Homo sapiens: one gene and its partners. The protein of the gene in region 1 interacts with the protein of each later gene in a pairwise test. Each region holds a gene or a part of one and is shown in the gene's direction. Other genes may lie near its edges.

Evidence for each region. The genes of interacting proteins can lie anywhere in the genome.
Region 2: the proteins of COQ8A (region 1) and DPYSL5 interact in binary tests that used the Homo sapiens proteins (3 or more experiments, as listed by UniProt).
Region 3: the proteins of COQ8A (region 1) and RGR interact in binary tests that used the Homo sapiens proteins (3 or more experiments, as listed by UniProt).

The regions. Positions count from the first base shown.
Region 1 is NC_000001.11:226,977,640-226,985,702, forward strand, and holds part of COQ8A (atypical kinase COQ8A, mitochondrial), read left to right. Parts: intron 1-4,387; coding exon 4,388-4,510; intron 4,511-5,038; coding exon 5,039-5,124; intron 5,125-5,254; coding exon 5,255-5,395; intron 5,396-5,912; coding exon 5,913-5,994; intron 5,995-6,121; coding exon 6,122-6,215; intron 6,216-6,454; coding exon 6,455-6,596; intron 6,597-6,908; coding exon 6,909-7,016; intron 7,017-7,236; coding exon 7,237-7,302; intron 7,303-7,614; coding exon 7,615-7,701; intron 7,702-8,063. UniProt on the Homo sapiens protein: Atypical kinase involved in the biosynthesis of coenzyme Q, also named ubiquinone, an essential lipid-soluble electron transporter for aerobic cellular respiration.
Region 2 is NC_000002.12:26,850,509-26,858,571, forward strand, and holds part of DPYSL5 (dihydropyrimidinase-related protein 5), read left to right. Parts: intron 1-8,063. UniProt on the Homo sapiens protein: Involved in the negative regulation of dendrite outgrowth.
Region 3 is NC_000010.11:84,240,553-84,248,492, forward strand, and holds the start of RGR (RPE-retinal G protein-coupled receptor), read left to right. Parts: upstream 1-4,500; 5' UTR 4,501-4,538; coding exon 4,539-4,617; intron 4,618-7,038; coding exon 7,039-7,195; intron 7,196-7,940. Other genes in the region: LRIT1 (leucine-rich repeat, immunoglobulin-like domain and transmembrane domain-containing protein 1 precursor), read right to left, coding at 766-887. UniProt on the Homo sapiens protein: Receptor for all-trans- and 11-cis-retinal. Binds preferentially to the former and may catalyze the isomerization of the chromophore by a retinochrome-like mechanism.

The DNA.
Region 1 (8,063 bases):
GGTTCCACGTAAGTGGCGTCCCTGGGGTGATGAGGCTGTTCATACAGACAGATTGACCTGCTTTAGAGGGGGTGAGGCTGGAGGCCCTTCCTCCTCCCAGCCCAAAGTGGCCACCCAGCCCCTTCTTTTTGGCTGCCTGCACATCCACACGCCTTCTGCACACCTGGACACCTTACACACCCCCTGCACACCCACTGAACACCCACACACAACCCCTGCACACCCACCGAACACCCGCAGACCTTACCCCTTCCACACCCAGCGAACACGCGCACACCTTACACACCCCTTGCCCACCCACCAAACACCCGCACCTTACATACCCCTTGCACACCCACTGAACACCCACACACCTCCTTATACCTCCTGCACACCCACCGAACACCCACAGACCTTACACACCCCTTGCACACCCACCGAACACCCGCACACCTTACCCCTGCACACCCACCGAACACCCGCACACGTCACACACCCCCTGCACACCCACCAAACACCCACACATCTTACCCTCCACACACCCACGCACCTTTTTACATCCTCCACACACCCACCTCATACCTGCACACCTCCTTACACACCCTCTACACACCCACCACACACACCTGCTTACACAGCCTCCGCACCCACTGAACACCCGCACACCTCCTTACACACCCTCCACCCACCCACCACACACCTGCACACCTCTTTATCCTCCACCCACCCTCCACCCACCCGAACACCTCCTTACACACCCTCCACATACCCTCCAAACACCCGCACACCTTGCACACCCTCCACACACCCACCTCTCACCCACACACCTCCTTACACACCCTCCACACCCACCAAATACCTGCACACCTCCTTACACATCCTCCACACACCCACCGAACACCCACTGAACACTGCACCTCCTTACCCTCCACACACCCCCCACAGCCACACACCACCTTACACACTCTCCACACACTCTACCCTCTACACACCCGCCCACCTTACACTCCACACACCCGCCCACCTCCTTACCCTCCACACACCTGCCCACCTCCTTACACACCCTCCACACACCTGCACACCTCCTTACATCTTCCACACACCCACCTCATACCTGCACACCTCCTTACACACCCACCTCACACCCGCATACCTCCGTACACACCCACCTCTCACCCGCACAGCTCCTTACACACCCTCCATGCACACACCTCCTTACACACCCACCTCATACCTGCACACCACCTTACACACCCTCCACACACCCACCAATCACCCACTGAACACTGCACCTCCTTACCCCTCCACACACCCACCACACACCCACACACCTTACCCTCCACACACCCGCACACCTCCTTGTAAACCCACCTTTTGCTGCTGCCCTGCTCTCTGGAAGTCGCTGGTCTGGCCGGGTCAGGTGTGGCTGGGGACAGGCGAGGTGTGCAGGCAGACCCTGCAGGCTTCTCCTCACCAGCTTAGTAACCTGGGGAGGCTGTAGTCTATGCAGAGGCACCTCACCTCTGACGTGAAGGTCACAGCCAGGGTCAGGCAGGTGGTCAGGTCAGGACACTCATCCCACTGAGGTTGGTGGCCCGCTGTGGCCGGGCCCTCTGTGGAGAGGTCCTGCGAACGGACCACGCTGAGGCTTTGGGCATTCGTGCTGCTGTGATGAGGAGTGGGGCGCACTGAGTCCCTGCCGCCTTCTGCCTGTGAACACCAGGCCGGGCTCCTCCTCAGGCCTCTTCAGGCACGGGGGGCGGGCCAGGTAGGTGCGAGGTCAGCCCAGCAGGGGCTTTCCTGTTAGTGGGGCCTGGGGTGTGGAGAGCAGTGCCAAGGGAACCGTCTGCGTGTGGATCTTCCTCAATGCCTCTGGAGTTCTGGGCCAAGTCCCCTGGCCCCGGCCCATTCAGGGAATGTCAGCTCATTCTGGTATCACGCCCTTCCACCCCCGTCCATGGGGACCCCCAGAGACACCCAGTGTCTGGCCACACTGCAGCCCTCACAGCCCTGTCTTCCAGCCTGGGCTAGCCTCCTTTGGGGGCCCTGCCAGTCCCCGGACAGCCCCCCTTCACCCACCAACGCTGCCTTCTGGGGCAAGGGCACTAGTCCATCCCACAGGCCCGGACTGAGTCCTGGGGACACGGGCGGCATGCACGTCCTTGGAAGGGGCTGAGGACGGAGGGCTTAGCAAGGGTATTTTTAGCGTTGGTGCTGACACTCTCTGGGAAATGAAGCCTGGGTTTCTCTGGAAGGAGAAGCCAGCCTTCCCCTACTGTCCCCTACTGTCCTCTCCAAAGCTGGCTGTTCTCCAGACTACCTCATCCAAGCAGGGAAGAGGCCAGGCTGGCTTCACAGTTACAGCTAGTGTCCTTTGTCAGGGACAGTGGTGACCCCAGGCTGGGGGTTAAGGGGCCCAGGCATTGTTAGCCCTGAGAGGGGGACCCGAGGCTTAGGCTGGAGTGGGGTGGCCCTGGGCAGCCCCAAACTGTGCTCCAGCTTCCTGACCAGGCCCTGGCACCCTCTGGACTGGAGGACACCGGCCACCCTGGCTGAGCTCTGCCCTGGAAGGACCTTTCCTGAGCTGGGGGCACACTGCCGTAGCCCTGGGCCCATCCCCACTTGCCAGGTCATTCTCACAGCCAGCCCTGCCTGGGTGGGGGACATACCTCCAGCCTGTGGCATTGACCAGCTTTGCCAATGGGCTACCTGGGAAAGCCCGGATTGGGCCAGGCACCGTTCCCATCTCTCAGGAGTGCTGCTGCTAGCCTAGGCCTACTCTGTGTGTCATGAGGAGACAGACTGTCCCTCCTCTGGCCTGGGGCAGTGGCCTCTCCTCAAGGTTTGCCTCTCTGCCTGCCCCTCCCCAGGGACCCAGGCCCAAGCCCCCAGCCCACAAGTACCACAGGCCTAGGGGGCAGAGGGGACATTGACTGCCTTTCCTTTGGTGCTGGCGTCTGCTGCTGCCTAAGGCAAGGGGGTGGCCGAGGGACCCTTCTGGGCCCAGCCCTCTTGGACTCGCTCTGCCCATGGGTCATAGCTCAGCCTCCCAGGGCAGCTCAGCCTCTTCCCGCAGAGCTAACATCTCCCACCTTCACAGGTCCCTTCCTGCTGTCTGGGACCCTGGAGTGAGCCTGGCCCCTTTCCACGTAGCTGCCTGCATGTGTGGGCAGATGCGGGTCTTCTCCGAGGCTCCTCTTCCGGGCCCGCAGGGCCTCCATTCTCAGGGCGGCCCGCCCCACCCTGGTTTCTCAGGGGCCAGGCTGCACCCGGCTCCGGGGCAGAGGGCAGTGGCACGGTCACCTCTCTCTTCCCCTGCTGGGGACCTGGCTCCGTGCCACCCGAGCGCTGTGCCAGGCCTGAAGTGATTTGAACTGAGGCAAATGCTGGGTGCTGTGGGGGCCAGAGAGGAGGAAGCCGCACTGCGACCTCTTGGGGCTTGAGATCTAACTAGATTCACAGGACAGAAGGCAGGAGAAGCTCCGAATGTCACAAGGGCTGGAGGCCCGGCGACAAGGGGTGCTGAGGAACTCAGGGAAGGTGGAAAGACTTGGAGCCCCAGATCCCTGCTCAGGCCTCTGTCTGCCTCTGGATAGGGGCACCTCCATGTCTAGGCAGCACTGAACTGATGGCCCAGGATAGGGGGGAAGCTAGAGAGGACCCAGCAGCCCTGGGCCACACGCCTGCTGGCAGTTGACTTAGCCGGCCTTCTGCTGCTCCTGAGTCGCGGCCCTCAGCCCTCCCCTTGGTGGACTGGAAAAAGGCCACCTGCACCCTTGGGGTCACTGCATGCTCATCACTGGCCAGCTGGCTGCACTGAGCTGCAGGGGGCCTCTGTGGGTGGACGGGAGAGACGGGCACCCCTGGGCTGTGCTGCCCTTGGCCTGAGCGCCGTTCCCTTGAGGACAGCCCTCTGGCTGAAGCCACTTGGCCCCATGTGCAAATGCATGCCGACCCCACAGGTGCAGCGGGCCTTTGTGCAGTGCCCTGGGTGGGGGTGCACAGGGCAAAGGCTCGGCACCTCCTCACCTGGGGTCCTCTGGGTCCCTACATCCCTCTTGGTTCCCACTCCCACGCCCCTTCCAGCCACAGGCAGCACCATGGCCCTGTCACGGCCCGCCAGGTCCCCATATGGAAGGGAGAGGCCCTTTGTGTGTGTGCGTTTGTGTGTGCACATATGTACGTGTGCATGCCTGTGTGTATTGGGAGGCGCTGGCGTAGGGCCTGGGCATGTGGCTCACACAGGCTTGGGGAGGTGGACATGGAACAGTAGTTAGTTATGTTGCTGGTTTTATGGACGCCTGGGAGGAAGGACATTGTCTGAGCCTCCGTCTGTATCAGGTGGGGCTTGCCATCCCACTCCCAGACCCCCCCGAGTGCCGTGGTGACCCCTCTTGCCCGCCCACAGGGAAGAAGGCCGTGCTGGGTTCCAGTCCTTTCCTGTCCGAGGCCAATGCAGAGCGGATCGTGCGCACGCTCTGCAAGGTGCGTGGTGCGGCACTCAAGCTGGGCCAGATGCTGAGCATCCAGGGTGAGTGGGCGCGGGGGCTGCTGCCCCGGGACTGCGTGGGCTGCTGGGGGGGTCAACTTCCAGGGCCGGGAGCAGTGGCCCCACCAAAGCTCAGTGGGCAAGATGTGAGCAGGCTGGGGAGAGATCTTAGAAGATAATAGGCCTGGTCTCCAGACGGGTGGCTCTGGGTCCAAAGAAACACATGGAATAAAGAGCAGAGAGGAAAAATTGCTCTCTACAGGTGGTCAGAACACAGGTCATTTCAACATTTTACTATGTTTTATTTTCCAAATTTCTTTTGTAATTATGAAAAACTCTGCATGTTGAGTGTAAAAAGCCCACCTTCTCAGGTCACTGGGCGGAGGCTGGGGCTCCCGGGAAGCTGAGTGGCCGAGGGCGTGTGTGCGAGGGCTCCTGTCTTTCTGGCCTCACCCGTGCTCCTGGTGGGGAGGGTGTGGTGGCCAGGGCATCCCAGGAGTGTGCCCGCCCAGGTCCTGGGCGCACACTTTAATCCCCAGGTTCGCCCTGTGTCATTCTCCTGCCTTCCAGATGATGCCTTTATCAACCCCCACCTGGCTAAGATCTTCGAGCGGGTGCGGCAGAGCGCGGACTTCATGCCACTGAAGCAGATGATGGTGAGGAGCCAGGGGCTCTGCCCACTCTCTGTGGCCTCGGCCCCCACTGGGTGGAGGGGACAGACTTGGGGCTTCTCCCGGTGGCCCAGGCAGGGCATGCTCAGAGCCCCTCCCTGGCCCTGCCCTTCAGAAAACTCTCAACAACGACCTGGGCCCCAACTGGCGGGACAAGTTGGAATACTTCGAGGAGCGGCCCTTCGCCGCCGCATCCATTGGGCAGGTGCACTTGGCCCGAATGAAGGGCGGCCGCGAGGTGGCCATGAAGATCCAGGTAGGCGGCCTGATGCGCAGTGCCTGTCCCTATGGGGGCTGCAAGGGGCAGAGCTGGGGCCTGGCTCATGGAGGCCTCTACACCCCACGTCCCGCAGGGCACCCTCTCTCCTGGCAGGGCCATATGTGGTGTCTTCTGGCCCCAGTGCCTGGACGGCACCAGAAGCTTGGGAAGTATTTGCTAAATGAGTGACTTTGGGGGCACAGAGGGGCCCCCAGCAAGCTTGATTTGGGGTGGGCAAGGACAGGGGACAAGTGATTGCTTTTTGGGGCCAGAGCTGGTGGGAGGGTGGCCGTGAGCTGTTCCCAGGGGTGAGGTGAGGCAGGAGTAGGTGGACAACGAGGCTGTGATGGGGTCCAGGTCACGGCAGCATGGCTGGGTCTTAGCTCTGGTTCTCCAGGGTGTGGGCTGGGGCCAGGACACAGCTGGGAAGCCAGTTGGGGGTTGGGGGAGTGCCCCAGGCAGGGCCCACCCGTCTCCCTGGGCTAACTCCCCTGCCTCACCCATACCCCCACAGTACCCTGGCGTGGCCCAGAGCATCAACAGTGATGTCAACAACCTCATGGCCGTGTTGAACATGAGCAACATGCTTCCAGAAGGTCTGAGGCTAGGTGGTTGGGTCAAGGGCAGGAGTGGGTGGCAGGCATCTGTGTTGGGTTCTGGGGACCAGAGGGGGTCCTCCCTGCAGAGCCCCCTTCCTCGCTGATGCCCTCCTCCCTGGCCCAGGCCTGTTCCCCGAGCACCTGATCGACGTGCTGAGGCGGGAGCTGGCCCTGGAGTGTGACTACCAGCGAGAGGCCGCCTGTGCCCGCAAGTTCAGGTGTGGCCCCCGGCCGGGCCCCTTGCGTGTTTGCACCAGGGAGGCAGAAGGGACCATGTTCAGCAGCTGGTGAAGGCCCCTCCAGCTCTGAGGGGCAGAGGGCTGGGGTTGCAGCCTGGGCCGAGGCCATATCCTGCCTGGGGTGAAGGAGGGCCCTCTGCCTGGTTGGGGGGTGTGTGTGGGGGGGGGGACGGTGTGGAGGGCCTGTGGCTAGGGCGTGACCTCCCTCCCCTACCCAGGGACCTGCTGAAGGGCCACCCCTTCTTCTATGTGCCTGAGATTGTGGATGAGCTCTGCAGCCCACATGTGCTGACCACAGAGCTGGTGTCTGGCTTCCCCCTGGACCAGGCCGAAGGGCTCAGCCAGGAGATTCGGAACGAGGTTTGTCTGTGCCAGCAGACAGGTGGGGCCAGGGTGGCCCTGCTGTGTGGCTGTTTGGTGACCTAATAGTGTGAGCTGGGGACTTGGAGCCCTGAGGTGCTCCCTGGGGGTGAGGGGCAGTGAAGTAGCACCAGTGGGACTTAGGGGGACACAGGGGAGCTGCTGCCTTCCCTGGCCCAAGTAACACTGGGAATCAAACAGTCCCTAGGGTAGGGTGGGTAAAACAGGAGGCAGGGGCTTCTCTGGCCCCAGTCTCCCAGGGCACCAGGCAGTGTGGTGCTGCCTGACACAGACCCTTCGCGCTGTCCACAGATCTGCTACAACATCCTGGTTCTGTGCCTGAGGGAGCTGTTCGAGTTCCACTTCATGCAAACAGACCCCAACTGGTCCAACTTCTTCTATGACCCCCAGCAGCACAAGGTGAGCCCCAGGGTGGGGGCACCCGCAGCCAGGCCTGAGAGCTTCTCCGAATGGGGCACGTGAGGCCCTGGACTGCCCCTTGTCCTGGGAAAGTCAGCAGAGAGCTCAGGGCTCTGGGAGTGGGGATCCTCACTGCCCTCTGTTGCACCCCCTTCCCGGCCCCACACACCCGCACCATGGAGCACCAGGGCCAAACTTCTCCTGGTGTCTCTGTCCCCAGGTGGCTCTTTTGGATTTTGGGGCAACGCGGGAATATGACAGATCCTTCACCGACCTCTACATTCAGGTAACTGGAGAGGGGCCCTGGCCTTGGTCCATGTTTTTCTGAGGCTGGGACAGGATGCTGGGGGACTCGGGGTAGGGAGAATGACTGGGTTCCTGCCCTTGTGTCCCCATCTGCGCTGCCTGCCCCTCAGGTCTGGTGACAGCAGGCAGTTAGGCTGACAGCTGCCAGGCGTGGTGTCACAGCACTGGCCGGGGGCCCTGTGCAGGGAGAGGATGAGGGTGGGGTGGGCTCGGGTGTGGCACTTGGCTCCCTGGGATGTCGGGAGCTGAGCTTTTCATGCTGCCCACGGTCCCCTCCTGTGCCTCTCCCCAGATCATCAGGGCTGCTGCCGACAGGGACAGGGAGACTGTGCGGGCGAAATCCATAGAGATGAAGTTCCTCACCGGCTACGAGGTCAAGGTGAGCAGGGTTGCGGGGGATCCCCTGGGCCTGCTGACCCAGGGCCCGGCTCCCTGTGTAAGAATGGATGAAAGCACAGGGGGCAGCTGCCCTCAAGGGGCCCCCAGAGCCCGGGCCTCCTTGGGCACGGTCTGAAAGCTGGGGCCCACCCCGGCCCATGCTGCCCTGCTGAGCGTGAGATTTTCCGAGTGGGCCAGTGAGTTGGGGACTTGTCGTGAAGCTCTTGTTTCTGCCTCTCACTCTTGCCCACTTAGGGCTTGGGGTTGGGCCTCGATTGAGCCAACGTGCAGAGCAAGTGGGAAGGGAAGCCCCAGCCCTCCCCTCATCGAGCCTCCCTGGGGGGAGTTGGAAGAAACCTTAGA
Region 2 (8,063 bases), on another chromosome or scaffold:
TAGCATAAAGTTATCATTTTAAATTGCCATTCATTAAAAAAAAAGGCAGGAATGTTTTTGTTCCCAGACTGGGCGATACTTGGCATTGTAGAACTCATTGATGCCACTTACATTTGCCACTAAGTTAACTGAGAACCTGTTGGTTCTCTTAACCCAGCCTTGAAATCTCAGGATTTGCTTTCTTAACAAGATTAGTGTGTAAGGTGAAGGACTGTGCTGTGGCTGTTGGCTTTTGCCCAGGACAGATGATAGCTGTCAAAGTGAAGGCCTCTTGTCTGAGTGTCCTTTCTGGCCATAGGGAGTCAGCAGTAGGCTATGTCTTGCTGGTTTTAAAGGATGGTGTTTTGAGGAGGTGCCTCACAGAATTTACAAAACTGATCTGGAAGGACTAGCTGGAACATTGCTCATTGGTTGTTTTTAACTATATTTTAACTGAATTATATATATGTATATATTAATATGTATATACACACATATATATATACACATACTATATTTTACTAAATTATATATGCATGTGTGTATTTATGCATACACACAAACATGGATTCAGAGTACATAAATACTAGGAATCTCAATATTAGAAACCTAGAAATCTGACAGTGAAGGTTTTTTCTTGTAAGAGAGCTCCAATGGGAAACATGTTTTCATATTATTACCCAAAGGGAACAATTTCAGGAAGGAGTGTTTTGTTGGCTTCTTTTTTGTAATAATTTTATGGATTTTTAAAAGGATGTAATCTTCTTAAAGCACTCTGTGAACATCCATTGCAGTCTGTTCCTCATGGCAGGGAATCCATAGACAAGGAATGCCGGTATGACCAGCCTGACGTGAAGGCCTGGCTGTTGTCAGCGTAACCTCTCTAGGTGCAAACATTAGCAGGGTTGTTGCATTATTCTTAATGCTTCTATCTCTGGAAAGAGTTCCACAGCAAGGCAAGTTTACACAGTTGGCCAAAATCAGGTCTCAGGACTTGGCGTAAACTTCATTTGTGGCACTTCCACGTCTCTTCTCCTGCCATAGCTATCTGAGAATTTCCCCTTAATAGCTTCTCTGACCCAGGATTCTGTATGATCCTGCATTAGCTCCACGGGACTATAAGCCAAAGGACAGCATGACTATAGGCAGGTCTCTGGGGTAAAAGTAAATTGTGGCCAGGCACAGTGGATCACGCCTGTAATCCCAACACTTTGGGAGGCTGAGACAGGAGGATCACTTGAGGTCAGGAGTTCGAGACCAGCCTGGCCAACATGGTGAAACTCCATCTCTACTAAAAATACAAAAAAATTAGCCTGACGTGGTGGCGCACACCTGTAGTCCCAGCTACTTGGGAGGAGGCTGAGGTGGAGAATCACTTGAACCTGGGAGGCCGAGGTTGCAGTGAGCTGAGATCGTGCCACTGCACTCCAGCCTGGGCAACAGAGTGAGACTCTATCTCAAAAAAAAAAATGTGAATTGTGTGTTCAGATCATTTTCTTGGGGCATAGAAAAATATTGAGAGCCAGAGAAGTTGGACAAGAGTATCTGAGACCCAGTCTATCTTCCTGGTGTGAAAATTTACCAGTTTCTGATAGAATCTGATCTTGTGTATCTTTTTTGTTTTCTGAGGTATAAAAACATATTCCAGAAAAGTCTTCTAAGACTTAATTCACAGGAATCCTGTAGAACAAGATATCTTTGTCAACATGAAGTCCTGTAGGGAAAACTTGGTGTAATATGGGAGCAAATAAGAATAAATGTGTTTTATCATTTTTCCAATAAGCAGGTGTTTGATTTCATTGCACTGCTGGTGCATAAATGAGAAATAATTTCAAAATCGCTTTGCCTTGCTTTTTTTTATGTGAAGATGAAAGGTTGAAATACCATAACATGAATCTTTTGTGAGCTTTGGTATTTATGTATAAAAGTGGGCACAAATTATACACTTGAACAAAAGAAATTCAGGGAGGAACATGGTGTATGATTTGTTCTACTTCAGTCTTTGAAACTTGTTTCATTTAAAATAAGCTGATTTAACCATTGATTGAACCCGAGCTTGCCAAGCACTCCCATCAATCACAGCCCTGTTCTGTACTTGTTCCCTCGCCTCCCTCCTCCCTCGTCACAATCCAGGCTCAGCGGTAGCGTGTACAGGAGGGAGAGCCAGAAAGCCTGGGTTCAGATTTCACCTTGGCCACTTTCTGTTTATCTGTGCAATGAGGATGGTTGTATTAGGTTGGTGCAGAAGTAATTGCTGTTTTTGCCATTACTTTTAATGACAAAAACTGCCGTGACTTCTGCACCAACTTAACAGTATCTACATCTGGGGTTGTTCTGAGGCTTACATGTGTTAATGGTTAGCACTGAGAGCAGCATCTGGCATCTTGTAAGTGCTCAGTAAAAGTTATCATCACCATCAGCAGCAGCATCATATTCTCCCTCTAAAATGTGTGTCCACAAAAACAACACTTTGATTCCCCATTTAATCTTTCATCCCAAGGGGCCATGGCAAGTTGCTGTAGGGATTAACAGTGGGAACACAAGGAATGATTAGGACTCCTTTCTAAAACTCCCACCCTTGCAAATAGTAGGAATAGCTCTCTGTGGAGTCTGTTTCCTGGCAGCCTCTTTAAGCTCAGCTGTTTTTAGCAGCTGAGAACTTGGAGAATTAAGAGTGTTCCAGAAGTGCTGTGACCTCAGCTTTGCTGCATCATTCCTTTGAGTGGGGTTAGGCTGGCGTGGCTGGTGAGGAGCTGTTGTCCCAAGGCTATGTAATTCTTGGTGTGGGGAAGAGTCATCATGTTTGGTTGATGGCAAATTATTGGGAATAAAGAAAACTCAGGTTTTCCAGCTAAGAAATACAGAATTTTGTGCAACTTGGAACCACAGTTATTTATTTCACAAACACTTTCAAAGCACTCTGTGCCAGGGGTGGTTCTGATTACTATGCATTAGGTTACTGTTATTATCCTCATTTTACAAATGAGGCAACAAAAGTAAAAAGGACACCCAGATGGGGACATGGCAGAGCCAGGCCTTGAACTCAAGGGGTTTGATTACCATCTGTATCAGTTCTCCAGGATAACTGGAGTTCTCCAGAAAAACAGAAAATCAGTTCTCCAGAAAAACAAAACCAATAGGATTGGTTTATGCAATTGGAGAGGCTGGCAAGTCCCATATCTGTAGGGAAGGCTGGCAGACCGGAAACTAGGCAGGAGCTCATGGTGCACTCTTTACTTAGAATTTCTTCTTTCTCAGGGAAAACTCAGTTTTTCTCTTAAGGCCTTTTAACTAATCATATGAGGCCCACCCACATTATCAAGGAAAAATCTCCTTTCCTTAAAGTCAACCACCCAGCCTGGGAAACATAGGGAAACTCCATCTCTACAAAAGTTAAAAAAAATTAGCCAGGTGGGGTGGCACATGCCTGTGGTCCCAGCTACTTGAGAGGGTGATGTCAGAGGATTGCTTGGGCCTTGGAGGTCAAGGCTGCAGTGAGCTGTGATTACACCACTGCACTTCAGCCTGAGCAACAGAGCAAGACTCTCTCAAAAATTAAAAAAAAAATAAAGTCAACTGATTATAGATGTTAACCACATCTACAAAATACCTTCACAGCAACATTTAGATGAATCTTTTATTGGATAATGGTACTATAGCCTAGCAAAGTTGACACAAAGAACTAACTAGGCCAGGCACAGTAGCTCACACCTGTAATCCCAGCATTTTGGGAGGTCGAGGCAGGAAGATCACTTGAGGTCAGGAGTTCGAGACCAGCCTGGTCAATATGGCGAAACCCTGTCTCTACTAAAAATACAAAAATTAGCCAGGCATGGTGGCATATACCTGTAGCCCCAGCTACTCAGGAGGCTGAAGCACAAGAATCACTTGAACTGGGAAGGTGGAGGTTGCAGTGAGCCAAGATCACACCATTGCACTGTAGCCTGGGTGACAGAGTAAGACTGTTTCAAAAAAACAAAAAACCACAACAACAAAAAAAGAAAGAAACCCTAACCATAAAAGGATCCATGCCTTTAAACAGTACCTCAAGCTGAGAACCTTATGAGTTGGGTGTGAGATTCACAGTTAACTAAATAATTTAGCAATAGGCTATCCCATTACAAAATGCTGCACCTTACCTTGTTTAAAATAGAATTTGGACCTCTTTTCTCGTCCAGGTGGCTTCTAGCCCAGAATATTGCTCAGAGTAACCATTCAACAGATAATATTGAAAGAATGACTGAATGGTTTTAGGTGATATTTTACAGGATTTTCCAGCTACTGAGACCTCTGGCTCCCCATTTAAATTTTTTTTCTTTTTCTTTTTCTTTTTCTTTTCCTTTCTTTTTGAGATGGAGTCTTACTCTGTCGCCCATGCTGGAGTTCAGTGGTGCGATCTCTGCTCACTGCAACCTCTGCCTCCCGGTTCAAGCAATTCTCCTGCCTCAGCTTCCCGAGTAGCTGGAATTACAGGCATGCACCACCACACCCAGCTAATTTTTGTATTTTTAGTAGAGACGGGGTTTCACCATGTTGGCCAGGCTGGTCTGGAACTCTTGGCCTCAGGTGATCCGCCCGCCTCAGCTTCCCAAAGTGCTGGGATCACAGGCGTGAGCCACTGCGCCTGGCCTCCCTTTTAAATTAGAAATCATCTGGCCCATGCTGGGCGCGGTGGCTCATGCCTGAAATCCCAGCACTTTGGGAGCCTGAGGCGGGTGGGTCATAAAGTCAGGAGTTCGAGACCAGCCTGGTCAATATGGTGAAACCCCGTCTCTACTAAAAATACAAAAATTTAGCTGGGCGTGGTGGCAGGTGCCTGTAGTCCCAGCTACTCAGGAGGCTGAGGTAGAAGAATCGCTTGAACCCAGGAGGCAGAGGCTGCAGTGAGCCCAGATCGCGGCACTGCACTCCAGCCTGGGTGACAGAGCCAGACTCCATCTCAAAAAAAAAATCATCTGGCCCAAGTAAGATTGAGTTTTTGTGAATGACTAGATTCTTTTGGAAAGAAAGGAGAACTTCTGCATTCTGAATTGTGCACGTGTCACTCCCTACTACCTAACATCTGTCCACTTTCATTGGTTTGGCAAAGGGGTTGAGGTCTGTTGCTGCCTGGACTCCCTGTGAATGTGTGTCTCCCACATGTTAGTAGTGCCCGGTACTCAATCACACCATCTTTGTGTCACTCCAGTGTCCATTTCTAAGCTGCCCCTTTGTTGATTTCAAATCCGCCATGGGCTGACTCGAAATTCTCACGCCTTGGGTCTTTATTCTCCCTTCTTTTGTCTGGTCCTGTCCCTCCCTTTGTCCTTCTGCAGAGCAAGATCCACTATTGATACAGAAGCCGCCTCCTTTCTAATTTTTTACTTCGGATTTCTGACCTTGTAGATTGATATGTTTGTTCTGTTATAAAATTCAAAAACAACCCCCAATTTTTTCATTTAATATCTTTTTGCTCTTGTTTCCAGCATACGTGAAACACTTTCAACCTTAATGAAGTTACTTAAATTGTTTTAAGTTTGCCGTATTGTCAAGTGGCAATACACATACATGAAACAGTCACTTTTGGGGGGTACAGTGGCTGAGGGTGCATTTTAAAAAAAACTAGTAAAGTATAACAGATAAACTGAGAAGTGTACAAACCATAAGTGTATAGCTTGATGAGACATACCCATGTAATCTGCACCAAATTAAGAAACAGAAAATTGGAGTCTCTGAGCCTACTATGGCTCAGAAGCCTGCCTGATTCAAAATCTTATTATTTAAAAAAGGGAAAAAAAGAAAGAAACAGAATTATCAGTACTCAAGGAGAGTCTCTAGTTACTTAGTATTCTTCCTCCATATCCTGACTGCTTATACACAGATCAATCAGCTTTGCCTATTTTTGAATTTTTACAAATGGAATCATGTAGTGGATATTCTCTCACCAGGGGCTTCTTGTGCTCAAGGTTATATTTGCGAGATTTCTCTTACTGTTGTATCTAATTTGCTTATTTTTTTCATTGCTATATAGCATCCCATTGTATGTATGTACCAAATGTGTCAGTTATGTTGCTAATGGTATTTGGATAGTTTCCGGTTTGGGGCTTTCATGGACAGTGCTGCTGTGAACATTCTAGTAGGTGTTTCTGTTGGGTATATATATACCTAGGAGTGAAATTACTGGGTCAGGGATACACACATGTTCTGTTTTAGTAAATTGTGCCAAATGCTAAGATTAATGGAGAAATTAAAAAAAAAATCCTCTGAAGTATACAATGCAGCTGTTTAAACCAAAATCCTAAAGACTGGCACAATATTATGGCTGGATCAGAGGTTGACTTCCAACTCTTATTCTTCAGCAAAAAGTAGAACTTTAAGCTATATCTCTGACTCCACAGTAATCTATCAGTTAAAAAAATTATATATATTATATATACATATATAATATATGTAATAAATATTATATATGTATATATAATATATATTATACTAGTTTTCAAGAATTGTCCACAAATAACCAATTGATTGGCTGAAATGAACACTTTTAAACTAAGCGGTGTACGTCTACCTTAGTCTTGCTACTGCAGTTTTCTTAACTCATGTTTCTTGAGGAAAAGATGAAAATCATATTATAAATGCAACATTGGTCCAGATATCATTCCAGAGATGTCCTGACAGCCTTGGGCAAGATTAACAAGTGCTTTTTATTGTTAACTAATTTATATTTCTTGTATTGGGTCAAATAGCAATTTTGAATTGTGTGATTTCTGTGGCTTAAAAAAAGTCTCAGCCAGGCGTGGTGGCTCACGCCTGTAATCCCAGCACTTTTCGGGCACAAGGTGGACAGATCACCTGAGGTCAGGAGTTCGAGACCAGCCTGGCCAACATATAGCGAAACCCCGTCTCTACTAAAAAACACAAAACTTAGCTGGGCGTGGTGGTGCACACCAGTAGTTCCAGCTACTTGGGAAGCTGAGGCAGGAGAATCGCTTGAACCCGGGAGGTGGAGTTTGCAGTGAGCCGAGATTGCTCCACTGCCCTCCAGCCTGGGCGACAGAACAAGATTCTGTCTCAAAAAAAAAAAAGAAAAAAAATCCCACAAAAGTGTCAGCTTGGAATCACAGAGTTCAGATTTCTTATTTGGCCAGACAGGATATTGATTTCTAATAATGGCCAGAATTCTTATTTCTTATAATAATTTCAGATTTCCTATAATGGCCAGACAGGACACTGCCTTTTTTAAATTTAGAAATAGAATTATGACATGTATCTTATTTTCTGTAGGTTTCTGGAAAAACTTAAAATAGATGTGATTTTTACAGTTGGATTATAATGGAAAGAACCTCTGCAACTAATGAAAAAAGTAAAGATAAGGCACAACAATATGAGCACTAACCTTCAGCCTGTCGCATCTCATGTTCATGGCCAGTATCGTCATGTGGCCCAGGAGAGATGGCAGTGATGGGCATGGCCAGTGTGCATAAAGGACAGTGGTTGAGGCATAATTATAGGATGGTGGTAATGAAACACGAGCAGCCAGAGGAGCCTGCCAAGGCAGTCATGAACTCCTAACTTGGCTGGTTTTTGCCTTATGTGATCCATTCACAGCCCAAATTGTTCCTGAGAAAGATTTTTTTTAGCATGTGGTCTGCCATGTTTGGTATTTGTCTTTATACAAACAAGTGAATGAGATCAGACTTAACATTTTTTTTTTTTTTTTTTTGAGACGGAGTCTCTCTCTGTCACCCAGGCTGGAGTGCAGAGGCGCGATCTCGGCTCACTGCAAGCTCCGCCTCCTGGGTTCACACCATTCTCCTGCCTCAGCCTCCTGAGTAGCTGGGACTACAGGCACGCGCCACCAAGCCCGGCTAATTTTTTGTAGTTTTAGTAAAGACGGAGTTTCACCGTGTTAGCCAGGATGGTCTTGATCTCCTGACCTCGTGATCTGCCCGCCTCGGCCTCCCAAAGTGCTGGGATTACAGGCGTGAGCCACCGCACCCAGCCCAGACTTAACATTTCTTTAAAACCTCGACTTACTGCTTAAACTCTGAGTCCCTTAAGCACTTAAATATTTCATATTTCATATCTTTTATAATATAGGATTT
Region 3 (7,940 bases), on another chromosome or scaffold:
TGCTAAAGAAAAGAAGAAAATGAGCAGTAGTGGAAGAGCAAGGGTCCACAAGCCACAGTGGCATGGGAATGTCCCATGAAAGGAGAGGAGGAGAGAATGGAGGTGCTCTGAGGGATCAGACAGAGGGTGGGGAAAGTCAAGGAAAAGGCTGGGGATGGAAGGAAGCATGCTTGTCATGGGATGGGCACTCCTGGCTTTTGGAGCACTCATAAAAAGGTATTGAGGCTGAGGCTCCTGGGATCTGGCCAGCGAAGATGGAGAGGAGGAAGAGAATGAGAGGCAAGTGGTCCCATCATGGGTGGGGTTGTAGGAAATGCCTGGGATATGATTGAATATTGTAGAGAGGTCAGGCAAGAGAGTGCAAGTGGCCTGGGAAAGAAGGGGCTGGGGAAATATAGAAAAGAAGAGGGAATAGAAAAAATAAAAGAGAAGAAAAAGCAGTAAGGGAGGAGATTTCCTGGACCTTTAAGGAGGGCTCTTCACCAGGAGCCTGGAGGAGGACTTAGGAAGGACTTCTTAGAACTGACATACTTGTGCCTCACCCTCGGGCCCATGTGTATAGATACCTGGTACCTCTCGAATAGAGTCACCCCCTTGCCTGCTGGAAAACAATGCAGCACAGTCCACCCCATAGGATCCCTGGTCCTCAAGGGCCAAGGGAGATGAAGACCTCACCCAGGGCCCCAGCTCCAACTCCTCCCAACCCAGCCTAGCTGGCAAAGCAATGGAGGCTGGGCTGCCCGTCCCACGCACCCGGTACCATACCTGGCCTTGCTGCCATCACCCATGATATGGAGGCTGCAGCTGCATTGAGAGGGGCAGAAGCCCCGGGCCTGGGGGGGCCACGCAAGGGCCAAGAGCCAGAGCATGCCTAATGCCACCCTCATGGCTCCTGGCTCCTCTCTGGCCCAGGCAGGGGCCTGTCCCTGGACCGCTCCGTCCCACCGGCCCAGCAAGCTCAGCAGCTGCCCACTTGCTCGCCAGCCCCTTACACCCCCTCCTGAGGCCATCGGATAAACATGGACAGACTGGGGATTAGGGAGGGGAGTCCCAGCCGCAGCACTCAGAGGCTTATTGCTTTCTGAATCACTCAGTCCTGAGGGTAGGGGCGGGGGACCCCCTTCCATAGCAATATCCACAGGCCCAGAGAGGCCAGGGCAGGGCACAGCAAAGCAAGACAAGTAGGCAGCTTTCCAGAGGCGAGCAGCCATGGGACTGTCATCTGCAAAGCATCCCATCCCAACAAGGCCACGGACAACACAGACCCCACTGGAGTGCCAGGGAAGATGGAGAAAGAACCCCCGCCTCAGTAAGGGCCTTTGGAAATTCTTTCCTGTGACACTGTCTCATAGCAAAAAAGCAGTGAAATGAAGCAACTCTTCCTGATGGTGCTAAAGGCATTGGAAGGAGGCTAAGCTCTGGACCCAGGCTTCCTGGGGTCAAATCCCAGCTGCTCCATTAAGGGGCTGTGACCTTGGGTGAGTCACATTATCTCTTGGCCTCTGTGTCCTTATCTGACAAAGAGAAATAAAGTTACTTCATGCAGGGTGTTTGTGAAAATCAAACTCAAATTCCAAGGCCTTGACAGCCTGTGGGAACAGAAGCTCTCTCACAAGTTGTAAGTGCCCAGTTTCACTGGTACTTATAAGACCCTACTTACAGAAGAACTGGACAGATTCAGATATTTTGGGGAGACATCAGAGGTGTCTCTCATGAGCCCACAAACTGTCCCAGGCTGCCAGGCAAACAGCTGCCTGCCTTGAGTGCCCCATGGATATGGACTCAACACACTACTATTTCAGCTGAGCCCTTCTGGGCATTGCTACGAATGCCAAAGGTGGAGATGTCTCCACATAAGGGACAAGGGCACCCCTCTCCTCAAGGTGCCCTACTCCAAGGAGGGCCCCAGAGAGGTAGCTCAGAGAGGTCTTAGAGAAGGCACTTTCAGGTTTTTTTGGAGACAGGACCCCAACCTCTAATAAGGGCCTTTGGAAATTCTCCATCCATAAAGCTTTGTTTTGCTTTATAGGGACAGGGTTGCTCTGTCACTCAGAGTGGAGTGCAATGGTGTAATCATAGCTCACTGTAGCCCCGAACTCCTGAGCTCAAGCCATCCTCCTGCCTCAGCCTCGCAAGTAGCTGGAACTGCAGGCAACCACCACCATGTTTGGCTATTTTTAAAAAATTATTTTTTGCAGTCAGGGTCTTGCCATGTTGCCCAGGATGGTCTCAAACTCCTGGCCTCAAGCGATCCTCCTACCTCAGTCTCCCAAAGTGCTGGGATTACAGGCCTGAGCCACTGCACCCAGACTAATTTCAATTTTTACTTATTCTCTCCTAACCCTATCTCGCCCCACCATATCTACTCAAGATGCCAGTGGGGACTGACCAGGGATGATTCCCAGCAGTAGACACTCAGTCGACTCATTCATTCATTCTTCACATTTGACCCTGAGGCATTGTTCTCTGGTCCAGCATGCCCTACCTATGTTGTTTGGCTTTTCTAGAAGGTTCCCCAGTCCTTCATGCCTGTGGCTCCAGGCAGGCCTAGACCAGTGAGGTATGACCTGCAAAGATATCTGGGGCCCCAGTGCACACATAAAATGCCTAGCTCGGAGCCAGGTCTGTTTCAACAATACTGGCTTCTCATTCTTTCCTTCCTTCCAATGCAGCCAGTAGGATTTTCTCAGTGCTTCCCAGCTATACTTCCACCTCCCCAAACCCAGCCGTCAGCTTGCCTGTTCCCACATCTCTGCTTCTTCCTCCTTGTGTCTTTTGCCCAAATGAACTTTACCCTTTAATCTTGGCCTTGCCCTGCTTTATCTCCTCTCATGAAGGCTTTTGTGATCTCGAAGGCATGAAAAAAGGACTGACATATGTATTAACCAACACCATAAGGTAGAAATTGAGACAGAAGGCCAGGCAGGGTGGCTCATGACTGTTATCCCAGCATTTTGGGAGTCCAAGGCCAGCAGATCACCTGAGGTCGGGAGTTCAAGACCAGCCTGACCAACATGGAGAAACCCTGTCTCTAATAAAAATACAAAATTAGCCGAGCATGGTGGCACATGCCTGTAATCCCAGCTACTCGGGAGGCTGAGGCAGGAGAATAGCTTGAACTGGGGAGGTAGAGGTTGCGTGAGCCGAGATTGCGCCATTGCACTCCAGCCTGGGCGACAGAGCGAGACTCCATCTCAAAAACAAACAAAAAAACAAAAAAGAAATTGAGAAAGAACAGGGAACGCTCTGGAGGGCGCAGCCATAAGCTCAGCCCTGCAGAGGGATTAGGCTTGGATGTAAGTGAGGACTCATGAGAGGAAAGGCCTGGGAAGTGGGCATTCCTGGAACAGAGTGGGTTGCTCTACCAGGTGAGTCAGAAGATGCCATTGAAAAATGCCTGAGCCTGAGGAATAGGAGATCGGCTTTTGTTCCAGCTCCATCCATAAATTACTGCATGGCCTCAGGCAGATTCTTAACTGTTTTTAGCCACAGTTTCCTCATCTAAAATGGAAAGGATAATGGTATCTAACTCATGGAGTTGTTGTAGGACTCATCAGAAGATCCCCTAGCACAGGGCCTGACCTCACTCAATATTAGCTATGTTGCTGATAGTGCTCTGGAGCTTGGTTTCTTTATCTGAAAATGAACTAAGTTGTCCTAGATCAGTATTTCCTGGTGTAAATTTTATCATGAGCCAGAGCATAACAGTGCATAAAGAGCCAGTGTATCAAGAAGTCATTTGTAGCAGCCAAAGCTCTTAGTGGGGCCGGCAAGGCTGGGCGGGTTCGGGGTCGGAGACTGACAAGACGGCAGGCAGCCCCTCTGTTCTAAGACAGTGTCCTAGGACATTTTTTATGCTCAGGTGCTCTATGGGAGACAGGAAATGCAGCCCTGAGGTTTATATTCGTGATATCTAACCAGGACTTATATAAAGGCCACAGACAAAAGACATTGACATTGCAGAAAAGTAAACGGAAGAGTCCAGTGGTCCCACTCCAAGGCGCATAACTAGTTAGTGGCAGATTCAGAACCAGAACCCCAACCCCATTTTCTGGTCCCAGATGGGGTTCTTCCTCTGACAGCAGGCGACTTCCCAAGCCTCATCCTTTCCCCAGCGCTTTGGAGTATACTCATGTGAGCCTGAGGACACACACACAGGCACCAGGCTTGTTGGGAACAGCTGCGGCTCAAATCCCTCCTCCTGCTCCCCTCCCCTGGTTATGCAACTCTTTTCCAATTAGGCTCTCAGCCACACACCATTTGGATTCCCCGACCTTAATCCTGTGCAATGGGGCTGAAATGAATGAGACAGGGCTCCATTCTGGCTTCACAAAGGCTGCATTGTCCAACTCGTGAATGGGTTCCTTCTGCTTGGGCCAAGAGGACCATTTGCAGCGGGGAGGCATCCAGAAACAGCCCAAGGTCCAACATAATAACCTGCATGTGCCTCCACGCACATGGGATGGCCCTTTAAAAGGGAGGGCCTGGCTGTGGGAAGCCAGAGACAGCTGGGCCACTGGCAGTGAGGGAGAGTGAGGATGGCAGAGACCAGTGCCCTGCCCACTGGCTTCGGGGAGCTCGAGGTGCTGGCTGTGGGGATGGTGCTACTGGTGGAAGGTGAGCCAGGCAGAACCTGGGGTGCAGCGGGGGCCCAGTGGGTTCTGAGGACCCAGGCCACCAGTGTGGAGCTGGCAAGGAGAGGAGAGGTCCCCAAACCCAGCTGGGTGTCCGGTCCCATTGGCTGCCTTCCCCTCTGTGCCCGGACTCGGGGGGTGTTCTGACAATTGAACCTGTGAGGTGCAGCACACTGCCCGCTGGGAGCAGAGAGGAAGCCAGGCAAGGGTCAGGGAGGGAGGGACTTTGAAAGGGGACATCTGCCCAGGAGATGATCAAGAGCCAGGCTTTAGGACTTTTCATGTCCCTCCAGCCGGGAGAAAATTTAATCCACTCCTTGGAAATCCTGCTGAGAATCCCACATAAGATCAGTCCCCCAAAAGGCTCTGGGGACAGACAGCTCTGCCTCCTGCTCTTGTGTGGCTGGAACCAAGTCCCTTCAGCTCTCTGCCCTCAATGCCTTGACATTCCGAATGGGTGGTTGTAAAGATTAAATGGGATAATGGGTATAAAGTGCTAGCCTAAATAGACTCTAGGGTATTTAAGTTCATTCACTCCCATCCTCTCCAGCCCCACCACTATTTTCACTGTGTCTACTCCTATGAGCCCAAGCACTTCACCTCTGGAGGCAACCTGGGTCTGCGAGGTACCTACCTCAACCTAGAATCCCTAAGATGCTCGCTGAGGCCAGAGCTAGAGACAGTGTCAATCCTGAATCTGGGCCAGCCCAAGCTAAATTGATGGAGAACGCAGCTTTGGTTCAAAGCAGACCCAGAGAAATCATCAGCACGTTTTCTCACCTAATGAGAACTGACAATGGAGAGGAAGTGACAGTCATTAGATTGGTCCTGAAGGCTCTGGACACGACTGTCTGGTGGCCCCAGCCCGTGTCTCCCTTTCCTGAGAACCCTACAATCTAGCATCCTTCCAGGTCCTCAAACATGCCATAAAATTTTACCACTTTATTTTTTGGAAGGGGTTTAAATTTACATTTTTATTTCATGTTTAATGACTAGAAATGTCATTATATACACAATGCTTTGGTTTTTATTTTATTTAAAATATGTTTTAAATTTCAATAGCTTTGGGGATACAAGTGATTTTTGTTTACATAGATGAATTACATCGTGGCAAATGCTAGGACTTTAGTGCACTCATCACCCAAGTAGCGTACATTGTGCCTCATTTGTAGGTTTTTTTAATCCCACTCCCTCTCCCACCCTTCCCCTTCTGAGTCTCCAGAGTCCATTGTGTCCTCTGAATGCCTTTGCGTACTCACGGTTTAGCTCCCACTTGTAACTGAGAACAAACAGCATTTGGTTTTCCATTCCTGAGTTACTTCACTTACAATAATGGCCTCCAGCTCCATCCAAATTGCTGTAATAAGACATTATTTCATTCCTTTTTACAGCTATTATTCCATGATGTATATATACTACATTTTCTTTATCCATTCATTGGTCAGTGGGCACTTACATTGATTTCGTATCTTTGCAATTGTGAATTGTGCCTCGGTAAGCATAGATGTGCATGTGTGTTTTTGGCTGGATTAAATGGCAGATCTACTTTTAGTTATTTAAGGAATCTCTATACTGTTTTCCATAGAGGTTGTATTAATTTACATATTCCCACCAGCAGTGCATAAGCATTCCCTTTTTACCACATCCATGGCATTGATCTATTGTTTTTTGACTTTTTAATGATGGTCATTCTTATAGGAGTAAGGTGGTATCTCATTGTACCATAGCATGTCTTTGCACATGCTATTCCCTCCTGGAATGCTCTTCCATGCACTGTCCTGCAGGTAAGTGCTTCTCATAGTTTTGAAGGCAGGATTTTTTCCTGTTCCTCACTTTAGATAGGGGAAGCTGAGGTTCAGAGAGCTTAAGGAGCAGCAAGCGAGGCAACCAAGCCAAAATTCAAGGTCGGGTCTCTCTGTTGCCAGAGTACGCCCCCTTCATGTTCACTTCCATGCCTGGCGTCCTGGGCAGCTCCCAGCTCTAACATCGACTCTTCTCCTTGGAGCCTCTCTGACTTTGCTCTACAGTCCTTGGAGAAGGCATTTTGAAATCCAAAAGGCCTGAATTCAAGTTCCAGCTCCACCGCTTACTAGCTGTGTACTTAGGGCAAGTTAGCTAGTGTCTCTGAGCCTCAGTTTCCCAGCTATAAATGGAGAAGAGAGTATCCAAGTAAAGATTGAATGAGATGACTCATATAAAGTGCTTATCCTGGTGCCTGGTGTGTGCTAAGTGCCTGGCAGCTGTCAGTGATTATGACTGTTATAGCATGAAGCATGCTACCCTATATTGATTGTCTTCCTTGTCTGTCCAGGAGGTTGCTGATGTTCCATCCACCCCACACACACTGTTCTGACCCCAGCTGGGCCTCAGCAGCCCCAATGCCAGCCCCCACCCTTCCTTTCAGCTCTCTCCGGTCTCAGCCTCAATACCCTGACCATCTTCTCTTTCTGCAAGACCCCGGAGCTGCGGACTCCCTGCCACCTACTGGTGCTGAGCTTGGCTCTTGCGGACAGTGGGATCAGCCTGAATGCCCTCGTTGCAGCCACATCCAGCCTTCTCCGGTACCAGCCCCCTCCCCAGTCCACAGGCTCTGGGGTCCTGCCTGGGGCCTGACCCCTGGGCCCTGGGCAGCCAGGCCAAGGGCATTTTTACTACTTACAGAAAATTGGCCAAGGGCAGAGGGTGGGCAGGCTAAAATGGGCTGAATTCCAGATTGATTCTGAAGAACGACAGCTGATTTCTGGAAGACAGGGGTTGCTGAAACCTGATGAAAGAGATGGTAGGCTGTAGAGATCAATGGTGTGGGTTCTGTAACCAAGCAACCTAGGTTTGCATTCTGGCTTCAGCATTTCTAGTTCTGGGCTTCTTCCATAAATCGGATATTATTTCCTAACTCATATAGGTGGTTGGAAGTATTTACTTCTATTATGTGTAAATAACTTAAAATAATGCTTGATACCTAGGACTCTACGTAAGTGTTTGTGAACACAAATGGGGGCGTTATCACCACTACTGCACCCGTATGTATCTGGGCTCCTGGAGTGGAGGGACACCGATGCAGTGTGGAGAGGATAAGAGGCAGGGAGGGGCAGTCATAACTAGCTAGTGTCTAATACCTCCTTATACAAAAACCAGGGTCTTCCATCACAGCTTCAGAAGGTGTTTATAAAATTGTTTTCTGAAGCAGACTGGACATTCTCATTCTGGTTTTGGACACTACAGACGGAGGCTGGAGCCCCCCCGGATGTGCATGCTCAGTGCTGACCAGCCTGGGGGGTCTGCATCAGTGAGAACTCTTCCTCCCAC